Linked DNA regions of Homo sapiens: region 1 is linked to region 2. Evidence: fine-mapped expression QTL. A gene starts in region 2. The other region holds a variant in brackets. All regions are shown on one strand. Distances are from middle to middle. Region 1 overlaps FAM13B (family with sequence similarity 13 member B). Region 2 holds the start of REEP2 (receptor accessory protein 2).

The links. PIP is the estimated chance that this variant, and not a neighbour inherited with it, causes the effect. A credible set is the group of variants that fine-mapping cannot tell apart.
Region 1: its variant is the best candidate, but not a certain one, in a credible set for the expression of REEP2 in tibial artery (GTEx, PIP 0.58).

What each region holds. Positions count from the first base shown.
Region 1 is chr5:137,975,836-137,981,209 of GRCh38, reverse strand. The region is part of intron 10 of FAM13B (family with sequence similarity 13 member B); the gene reads left to right. Among named protein-coding and RNA genes, the nearest start is that of FAM13B-AS1, 54 kb to the left of the region's middle. The variant A/G (reference allele first, on the strand shown) is at 2,507.
Region 2 is chr5:138,436,525-138,441,898 of GRCh38, reverse strand. REEP2 (receptor accessory protein 2) reads right to left here and starts at 2,842. Exons shown (of 8, transcript NM_001271803.2): 1 at 2,659-2,842; 2 at 811-883; 3 at 438-514. The coding sequence starts at 2,690. It overlaps KDM3B (lysine demethylase 3B), which reads right to left. Exons shown (of 24, transcript NM_016604.4): 24 at 4,872-5,374. RefSeq lists an enhancer at 1,676-2,209 and a silencer at 2,595-3,014.

The DNA of each region.
Region 1 (5,374 bases), 460 kb after region 2:
TCCTAGCACTTTGGGAGGTCATGGTGAGAGCGTCATTTGAGCCTGGGAGTTTGAAACCTGCCTGTGCAATGTAAGGAGGAGAACCCATCTGTACAAAAATGGTAAAAAAAAAAAAAAAAAAAAAAAAAAAAATAGCCAGGTGTAGTGGTGCTCCCCTGTGGTCCCAGCTACTTGGGAGGCTGAGGTGGGAAGATCACCTGAGCCCAGGAGGTAAGGCTGCAGTGCGTGGTGATCACACCACTGCAGTTCAGCCTGGGCGACACGGTGAGACCCTGTCTTTGAAGAAAAAAAAAAAACTTTATGAGGGCTGAAATTTTTGTCTGTTTTGTTCTTTATTACATCCCTATTATCTAGAACACTTAGTAGGTATTCATTAAGCATTTGTTGATGTAAGACCAGAATAGCATCTGGCACATAGTAAGCTAGTAAACAACTCGGTAAATAATTTGTTGAATGAAATTGGTGTATTAGGCTGGGCGCAGTGGCTTACGCCTGTAATCCTAGCACTTTGGGAGGCTGAGGCAGGTGGATCGCTTGAGCCCAGGAGTTCAAGGCCAGCCTGGGCAACATGGTGAAACCCCGTCTCTACAAAAATAAAAATTAGCCAGGCTAGGTGGCGTACGCCTGTAGTCCCAGCTACTTGGGAGGCTTAGGTGGGAGGATTGCTTGAGCCTGGGAGGTGGAGGTTGCAGTGAGCTGAGATCGTGCCACTGCACTGCAGCCTGGGTGACAGAGTGAGACCCTGTCTCAAAAAAAAAAAAAAAAAAAAGAAATTAGTGTATCAATTACTTTATAAAGAGAGCAGGAACTAATTCTTTCTAAAATTGTTTTTAGGAAACCTTTATGAATGATGGGTTCTTGGCCTTGAAAAACCTGTCACCATTTCTTCCCCCCAACCCCAGCTAAGAAGTTCAGTGATACTCTTATTATTTGAATAAGTTAGTTCAGTTGGGCAATACACAATAATACCTGTTTACTTGGACAGTATAAGCAAAAATACCTGATTTAAGTTTTCTTTCTTTTTTTTTTTTTTCTTGAGACGGAGTTTCATTCTTGTCGCCCCGGCTAGAGTGCAGTCGTGTGATGTGGGCTCAGTGCAACCTCCGTCTCCTAGGTTCAAGTGATTCTCCTGCCTCAGCCTCTTGTGTACCTGGGATTACAGGCATGTGCCACCACGCCCGGCTAATTTTTTTTTTTTTTTTTTTTTTTTAGTAGAGACAGGATTTCTCCTTATTGATCAGGCTAGTCTCAAACTCCTGACCTCAGGTGATCCTCGCGCCTTGGCCTCCCAAAGTGCTGGGATTATAGGCGTGAGCCACCGTGCCTGGTCGATTTAAGTTTTCAATGACTTGATAATCTAGGTTGTACATGCACATACTTTCTAATACAGAATATGACTAGTGCTATTAGGGCACTATAGTCTTGCAGAAGAGAGGAAAGAACTTCTGGCCAGGGTAGTTATGGAAGGTCTTGGAATGAGGGGGATTTTGAACTTGGCTTTTTATAGGGCTGGATTTGGTTCAAGATTTGTGAAAGAAACTAAAATGAATAGTATAAGTAAAGATTACAGGGTAATGTTGAATGTTAATGAAACAGAGCTACTTGTAGAACTCAGGGTATTGTGGGAGGATATATAGTAGAAGATAATTCTGGAATATTGGTAGATTTGGGTCATACGTAGAGCCTGGAATACTATCTTAAGAATTGTAGATTTTCTCAGTAGAAGAAAAATATAGAAAACTTTGAAGCAGAGGGAATGATGTACCCAGATCTGTATTTTAGGAAGAAGGTTTTTTGTAGTAGTCATAAAAAGTTTGTGGGAAAGACTGGGGGTAAGGACAACAACAATCAGTAGGCTTTTTGCACTGTATTTGGCGAGCACTTAAAATATCTGAGCTGGTGGGCATGGTGGCTCATGCCTGTAATCCTTGCACTTTGGGAGGCCAAGGTGGGCAGATCACCTGAGGTCAGGAGTTCGAGACCAGCCTGGCCAACATGGTGAAAACGCATCTCTACTAAAAATACAAAAATTAGCGGGGCATGATGGCACATGCTTGTAATCCCAGCTACTCGGGAGGCTGAGGCTGGAGAATCTCTTGAACCCAGGAGGAGGAGGTTGCAGTGAGCTGAGATTATGCCACTGCACTCCAGCCTGGGTGAAAGAGTAAGACCCTGTCTCAAAAAAAAAAAAAAAAAGTCTGAACTGTGAGCCCTAGGGAAGGAAGGAAAAATAGAGAAAATTCCAAAGGTGAAAATGATTAAGATTTAGGTGCAAACTGGGGTAAGAAACACAGACACTAAGAGATTGGAAAAGAGGTCAGTGTTGCAGAACTGGAATATCAAGGTGGTTTATATGAAGCAGATGTTCAGGTCTTGAGCTGTGGCTGGTGGTGGAGGCTCATTTTGTCTGTGAGTGAATGCCATTGCCAAAGCAGTGACTTGAATAGAATAAACGGGGATTGAAGAAACCCTTGGGGAACCTCTGTATTCTAGCTCTTTGGAGGAA[A/G]AAAAGCAGCCATGACCATAGCAGTTGGGAATGTCAAAGAGGATGGGATTTTTTCCTGAGTCTGAAAGTTGGTCAAAATAGAGAGGTAAAAGGAGGAAAAAAGGTGGTGGGAGGCAAAGGTACAAAAATAAGAAGAGTAAGTTTAATTTTATTTGCTTGCTAGGGTGGTTAAAAGTCTAATGAAATGGCTTTTTTTTTTTCTTTGCCTTTGCTGTTGAACAAAAAATTTAAGAATACCCAGGAACAATATATTTAATGCTGGTGAGGGTAGGTTAAGGTAAGTGGTCTTATACAGACATCGGAAGTATAAATTGCTGTAAACTTCCTGGAAAACACATTAACAGTAAGAACAAAAGACCTTAAACCTTTGATCCAGAAATTTCAAAATCTAGGACTCTTTCCTAAGGAAATACATACAAATCAGAGGTGTATGCAAAGATTTTTCTACTAGAATTCTTACTGGGGGTTTCTTCATCGGAAAAAAAAATGGGAAACACAAAAAGTCCTAAATGGAAAATGATTAGATAAATCATAGTATATCCATATCATAGGATATAGTTGAGTCATTTAAAATTATTTTAAAGGCCCAAGTAATAGTTGTGAGGTAAAGTTATTTTGAAAAAAAAACAAAAAACAAAAAACAAAACATACAAAACCAAGTGTAGATTACTAAAGCTAATGCAGTCCCAATTTCTTTGTGTGCATGCACTGCATGTGTGTGTGGCACATAGTCAAAAGGCCAAGTCAGAATATTCACAGTGGCCTTCTGTCTGATAGATTGTGGATGATTTTACTTTTCTTCATATGTCCTTATATTTATGTTTCCAACAGTTTCTCTGATTTATAATCAAATAATTAAAGAAAATTTATTGGATTTAGTGATAGAAATTATTGGTAAAGAAAGAGGAGCTTTGGTAGGTAGAGGATTTCATGGTTGAGAATGAATATCAGGTGAGTAGGTAGAAGCTGCAGTGTGTGGAATGCCTTTTGCACAAGTTTTGCATTGAAATTAAAAGGAAAGAGAAGGCCAGGCATGGTGGTTCATGCCTGTAATCCCAGCTGTAATCCCAGCACTTTGAGATATCAGGGAACCTGCTCCCGATAGTCATGTAGGTTCTTTTCTATTTTCCCTAAGCATTGGCTGGGTTGAGAAATAAAGGGACAGAGTACAAAAGAGAGAAATTTTAAAGCTGGGCATCCGGGGGAGACATCACATGTTCGTAGGTTCTGTGATGCCCCCCAAGCTGTAAAACCAGCAAGTTTTTATTAGGGATTTTCAAAAGGAGAGGGAGTGTATGAATAGGGTGTGGGTCACAGAGATCACATGCTTCACAAGGTAATAGAATATCACAAGGCAAATGGAGGCAGGGCGAGATCACAGGACCACAGGACTGGGGTGAAATTAAAATTGCTGATGAAGTTTCAGGCACACGTTGTCATTGATAACATCTTATCAGGAGACAGGGTTTGAGAGCAACCGGTCTGACCAAAATTTATTAGGCGGGAATTTCCTCGTCCTAATAAGCCTGGGAGCGCTATGGGAGACTGGGGCTTATTTCATCCCTACAGTCTTGACCATAGAAGATGGCCACACCCAAGGAGGCCATTTCAGAGACCTACCCTCAGGGGTGCATTCTCTTTCTCAGGGGTATTCCTTGCTGAGAAAAAGAATTCAGCGATATTTCTCCCATTTGCTTTTGAAAGAAGAGAAATATGGCACTGTTCCACCTGGCTCACCGGCAGTCAGAGTTTAAGGTTATCTCTCTTGTTCCCTGAACATTGCTGTTATCCTGTTCTTTTTTCAAGGTGCCCAGATTTCATATTGTTCAAACACACTTGCTCTACAATTTGTGCAGTTAATACAATCATCACAGGGTCCTGAGGCGAAATACATCCTCCTCAGTTTACAAAAATGATGGGATTAAGAGATTAAAGTAAAGACAGGCATAGGAAATCACAAGGGTATTGATTGGGGAGGTGATAAGCGTCCATGAAATCTTCACAATTTATGTTCAAAGATAGCAGTAAAGACAGGCATAAGAAATTATAAAAGTATTAATTTGGGGAACTAATAAATGTCCATGAAATCTTCACAATCCACGTTCTTCTGCCATGGCTTCAGCTGGTCCCTCCATTCGGGGTCCCTGACTTCCTGCAACAACAGTGGCCTTCTGGCTGATAGGTTATGGATGATTTTACTTTTCTTCATATGTTCTTATATTTAGGTTTCCAACAGTTTCTCTGATTTATAATCAAATAATTTAAGCAAAAAATTCCAATTAAAGAAAATTTATTGCATTTAGTGATAGAAATTATTGGTAAAGAAAGAGGAGCTTTGGTAGGTAGAGGATTTCATGGTTGAGAATGAATATCAGGTGAGTAGGTAGAAGCTGCAGTGTGTGGAATGCCTTTTGCACAAGTTTTGCATTGAAATTAAAAGGAAAGAGAAGGCCAGGCATGGTGGTTCACGCCTGTAATCCCAGCACTTTGGGAGGCCGAGGTGGGTGGATCACGAAGTCAGGAGATGGAGACCATCCTGGCTAACATGGTGAAACCCCATCTCTACAAAAATACGAAAAATTAGCCAGGCGTGGTGGCAGGCGCCTGTAGTCCCAGCTACTTGGGAGGCTGAGGCAGAATGGCATGAACCCGGGAGGCGGAGATCGCGCCACTGCACTCCAGCCTGGGCAACAGAGCAAGACTGTCTCAAAAAAAAAAAAAAAGGAAGAGTTGAGCAGTCTGGTTGTGGAAGAGATATTCCCCCCTTCCCCACTCCCGTCCCCCATTTCTGCTTTCTTGATACAGGATGGAGATTTGAGCATGTCAGTAGGAATCACTCACTAGATAGGGAGAGACTAAAAAATGTCA
Region 2 (5,374 bases):
CTGGAGTGCAATGGCGCGATCTCGGCTCACTGCAACCTCTACCTCCTGGGTTCAAGCAATTCTCTTGCCTCAGCCTCCCTAGTAGCTGGGATTACAGGGGCGCCACCATGCCCAGCTATTTTTTTTTTGTATTTTTAGTGGAGACGGGGTTTCACCATGTTGGCCAGGCTGGTCTCAAACTCCTGACCTCAAATGATCCACCCACTTAGACCTCCCAAAGTGCTGGGATTACAGGTGTGAGCCCCCTCGCCTGGCACTACTATGTCTGTTCTTCTGCAGGTCAAGTTAGGCATGAGAGGGGAGATATCAAGGACCCCATGAAATTGTCAGGAATGGGAGGAGCTTCACCCCCAGGCCCAGTCTTTTGTTTGGCTGGCTGGGTAGAGAAAGGCAGAGGCCCTGGGCCCTGAGATACAGGAGGGGACGCTGGACCTCACCAGGAGAGCACTATATCCGTGAGCGTCTCGGCCGTGGTGAAGAAGGCAAAGACGATCCAGTACATCATCCATTTCACCTGAGGGACAGAGGGAAGCGCTGGCTGGGGCACGGGGCTGAGGGGCCAGGGACACCCAGGACCCCAGCTCTGCCTGTTGAACATGCCTGGGCTGGGGAGAACACCAAGGACCCCACTTCTGCCTGCCAGCCATGTTGGAGGCGCTGTGTGGGACACCCAGGGCCCTCCTTTGCTGGTGGGTCTTGTTAGTGGCTGACAGTGTTGGTGCAAAGTCACCCCCATCTGTAATAGGACCCAGTGCCCTCCCCTCTCTGTGCCATGTGGGTTGGGTAGGGGGTGAAGGGTCATCCACTCACATATTCCTTCACGTTTTTTGTCTTCACGGCCTTGTAGGAAGAATAGGCTGGGTACAGGGTGCCAAAGATGAGCCTAGGGAGGCAGGCATGGTTACTGGGCCTCTCAGCCAAGGGCAGTGGCCTCTCCCTCCCAGCTCCGCATCAGCCCCTGGGTAAGTAATGGGAAGAGAGACAGAACTCCCCGCTGGACTGATGAACTCAGGTCAGGGGTTAAGGTCAAAGCAGCATGGAACATGCCCAGCCAGGTAGGGTGATGCCCCCTCCCCGCTCCACTGTTCAGTTTTTCTCTAGCCCCGGAGGCAGGGAAAGGCCCAGAGGCCAGAGGGTCCAATGTAGTCCCTTGCGCCATGATCCTTGGTTACACACAAATATGTCATGGAGACTGGGAGTCAGGTCACTGCCACAGGGTGTCTTCCTTCTTGACCTCATGCCCATTCACACCCATCTGCCCTTACCCTCCACCTCCCTCAGAGCCAGGCTCTGCGAGGGAACCTGACACCACCTAACAGGGCACCCTACCTGGCAGGCAGAGGTACCACTGTGGCCCTGGGGCCCTAGGGAACAGAGGGCACAGGGGCAGGAGGCCCTGAGAGAGGCAAAGAGGCTTATTCCCCCATGTAAACACCACAGGGACAGGGCTCAGGGGAGGGCCCCGCTGGTGATCCAAGTACAGAATGCAGACAAGACACAGGCCGGGAAAGAAGAGGACCGATGCCCTTTGGGGCTTGCCCAGGCAAGAGAGAAGCAGCCACCCTGAAGGCCACATGGAGGCGTGAGGCCCCTCCATTCCCCCTGGGATGGGTGGGGGAAGAGAAGGAGTCTAGAGTAAACCAGGACAGAAGCACTTGGCCGGCCCGGCTGTACCGAATGGGAAGAAGGGAGCAGGGTGGGGCTGCCGGTGTCAGTCCCCAACGGTGGAGGCCGAGGGGCAGTGTCCTCATTAGGGCAGGGGATAGCTCCGAGAACCACGAGGAGCCCCTGTCAGGCTCAGCCCCTTGACAATGTGTGGCTGTCGCCTGTTTCCACATGGACAGGAGGGATACTTCCAAACCGGCTGGTGCAAGTGGAGTGCGGAGCAGAATCCTCAAGGACAAAGTCTGGGCTCGTGGGGAATGGTGTGTGTTCCCTCCTGGGGCCCGGGGAGGTGCCAGAGACACAGCTCCACAGTGTGGCTGGCAGCCTGGAATGAAGGCCACGGAGCGTCCTCCCCCAGCGGGGTCCACAATCCCAGGCTGAGCACACACATCCCCTCTCCCAGTTACCTCTCACACTTTGTCCTCCGAGCATTTCTGCTTCCCGATACCCAGACTTCCTCCCTAGGGGGCCTAAGGGCATATGCCCTCGTCCCCAGTCTCCTGACAGTGAGTGGAAGGGAGAGACCAAGGGGCCTGGTGATGGCTCTGAGCTGCGGAATGATGATGAGGCCCTGCCTTGCTCCACTCTCTTCCATCACCCTGTTACCTCCCCCAGAGGGACAGGGCCCGGGTCTGAGGATCTCCTCCAGCCCAGACCTGCTAGGTGGGGGAGGGGACGCGCCTGCCTCCCCTTTTAAATCAAGCCGTGCTGCTCAGCCTCTAGGATGGGCGCAGGAGCAAGGACGGTAGAAATAAAAGAGGTTATTAATAAAGAATGTGGGTGAGGTCCCTGGGAAGCCAGGCCTGCCACGCTCCCCTAATATTCCCCCCTCCAGTCCTGGGTGCCACATCTCCATGTCTCTGGGGGCCCCAAATAAGGACGCAGCGCCTTTAGGTGACTCTGCTGCACGAAGCTTCGGAGAAGTCCACCCGGGCTTTAACACCCCCGCCCTCCATCACAGCCCGCATCACCCCCCGCCGCCGCCGCACTCACACCACCAGGCGAGAGATGATCCAGGACACCATGGCGGGGCCGGGCGCGGCGCGGGGCGGGGACCCGGCCCGGCCGAGGATGCAGCTGCCTGAGGCCGAGCGGCGGCGGCGGCGGCAGCAGGAGCCGCAGTAGCAGCAGCAGCCGCTGCAGCAGCCGCCGCGGGGGCAGCGGAGCGCCCAGCGCCGCCGTTAAAGGGGAGGTCCCTGCCGCAGCGGCGGGCCGTGGGCGGTGGCGGCTCTTAAAGGGGAGGCCGGGAGGCCGCCGCGGCGGCGGCGGCGCGCCCCCGCCCCGGCACCTGCTGTGGCCGGGCATGCGCCTCCGACCCTCAGTGCCCTGCCTTCCTCGAATCGCTTGTTCATCTTTCTTGGGTTTCAAGCCCTAGGCTGTTGTCGTGGAGGTCTCCATGGTTACATCCTGAAATCGACCCCTGCCCACCTCCTGCCCTGCCCACACCAGGCGCTTACTGTGTGCCAGCCCCTGTGCTAAGAGCTTCACTGCGTTGCCAGTGAATCCTCTTGACCACCCTATAAGGCAGGCGCTATAAAAGCCCTCATTTTGAAGATAAGGGAATGAGAAGCTTAAGGCTCAATAATCTGTTGAGAGTCACAAAGCCACCAAGTCATGCTGCTAAGATGACCCCAGGAAGCCTACTTTAAACAGGTTACATCCCCCAACTGCTGACTAGCAAACTCTCCTCATTACAGGCCCTGAAGACATCCACCTGAGCTCCTGAGTCACAGGTACAGCCGCACCTGTCCACCCCACTCCTTCTCACCCCGTTGAAAGAGGATCTCCCCTGACCAGATGATGTTTTGTTTTTTTGAGACAGGTCCTCACTCTGTCGCTCAGGCTGGAGTGCAGTGGCACAATCTCAGCACACCTCCTGGGCTTGAATGATCCTCCCGCCTCAGCCTCCCGAGTAGCTGGGACTACAGGCCCAAAACACCACCAGCTAATTCCTGTTTTTTTGTTTTTTGTTTTTTTTTGCCAAGATGGGGTTTTGCAATATTGCCCAGGCTGATCTCCAACTCCTGAGCTCAAGCGATCCACCCGCCTCAGCCTCCCAAAGTGCTGGGATCACTGGTGTGAGCCACCGGGCTGCTGGTCTGCTTTTTTAGGTTGTCAGCTCCTAAGCTTTGCAGCGGAACAGAGCTTTATGCTCTCAATGTGGTTACTGACAACAAAGGGTCAACCTTCTTTTCAAACAGAGGGGCTGCGAGAGGGTCCTGGGGCTCCAGTTCCACCCCCATCAGCAAGCACTAGTGGCAGTGAATGTCCTGATTCTAAAGACATTTATATCCAGAATGTAGGCTAGCCTGCCTCCTGATCTTCAGGAAAGCAACCAACCTCCAACCATCCACCAACACCCCCAGCCCTATTGCTCTCCTTTCCTGTCCCATTTTAGAGCTTCTGCATTCCTCTACCCTTTATGTTGAGTTGTAATCCTTCGGGTGACCACAGCATCAACCTGTGCCCATCTGGGCTGAAAGGACACATTCAGAACTGTGTATTTCAAAGAGTCATGGTCTTATTCAAGCTCAGTATCCCTGAACAACACAATGGTCTATTTCTAACCTGGTAAATTATATTTCCAGGTTCAAACACTTTGGAAGATGTTTCCCAAAACGTTCCAGAAAAGCAGCCTCTGATAACCCCTCTTGCTATTCTTTACAACTTCCTCTCCAGAAAACATCTCCTAATTGGAATGCAGTCTGTTATCACCCCACAATGAAACACTTTAATTACTGCTTGATAAATCCCACATGAGTGTCTCCCACCATCTCTAAGGTGGATCTATGGCCACACGTTTCATGTAGGCAGCCAGGCTGCCTGCTTAAGAATCCCACCACAGACTGTCCAACTTTGCTGAGGCCACACACCATGACCCTTCCCCCCAGACTCTGCCACAGGAAGGGAGGACCCCAACTTTCCCACTCCATTCACAAAGCATAAAGTATGGGGAAACATGTCTCTCTTTCTACCCTCTAATTCATGTGGCCCCTTCCCCTTACCCCCAATTCCCCAAACCATACTGACCTCACCCTGGCACTTTCCTTTTTTCTAACATGGCACAGTCTCAACAAGCAAAGAAAAATATCTGGGTGTAGCACAGTCATGAAGACCTGGAAATGAATCCCCCACCTCCAACCCAACTCCCAATCTGATGTTGATTTTAGAAGGGTTGGTACACGAATAATTTAGTCCACTCCAAACAGATTTGTTAGATTTTTAATAAGAACATGGAAATCCCAATCAGCCCTTCAACAAAATTAAAATACAGAAAGTGAAATTAAAAGTATTCTACATTAAATGACTTTTATTTAAAAAAAAAAAAAAAAGTAACTGTGAACATATAAACAGCCTGCAGGGCACTACAGTACAGCTGGAGAGATATACATTTTCCAATGTACCTATGGGCCAATGAATCCCACCATTTTCAAATAAATCCTTAATCAGACTCCACTCAGTTGGAAAGTTTTGCTGAAAATATTTCTGGATAAAAAACAAAAAACCTCATGTTGGAAATCAACTGTCCTTCCCATTTGGAAACATTAAGAGGAGTCCCCAGGGAACACTGGTAATAGGTGAAAATGGTTCCTGGAGTCACCAGTGTTGTACACACACATGGGGAACACACCACAGCTTAGATGTGACAAAGTTCCTTCTCATATGACTGTTCCCTCAAGGTAAGACTAAGATGGGAGGGGGAGAAAAA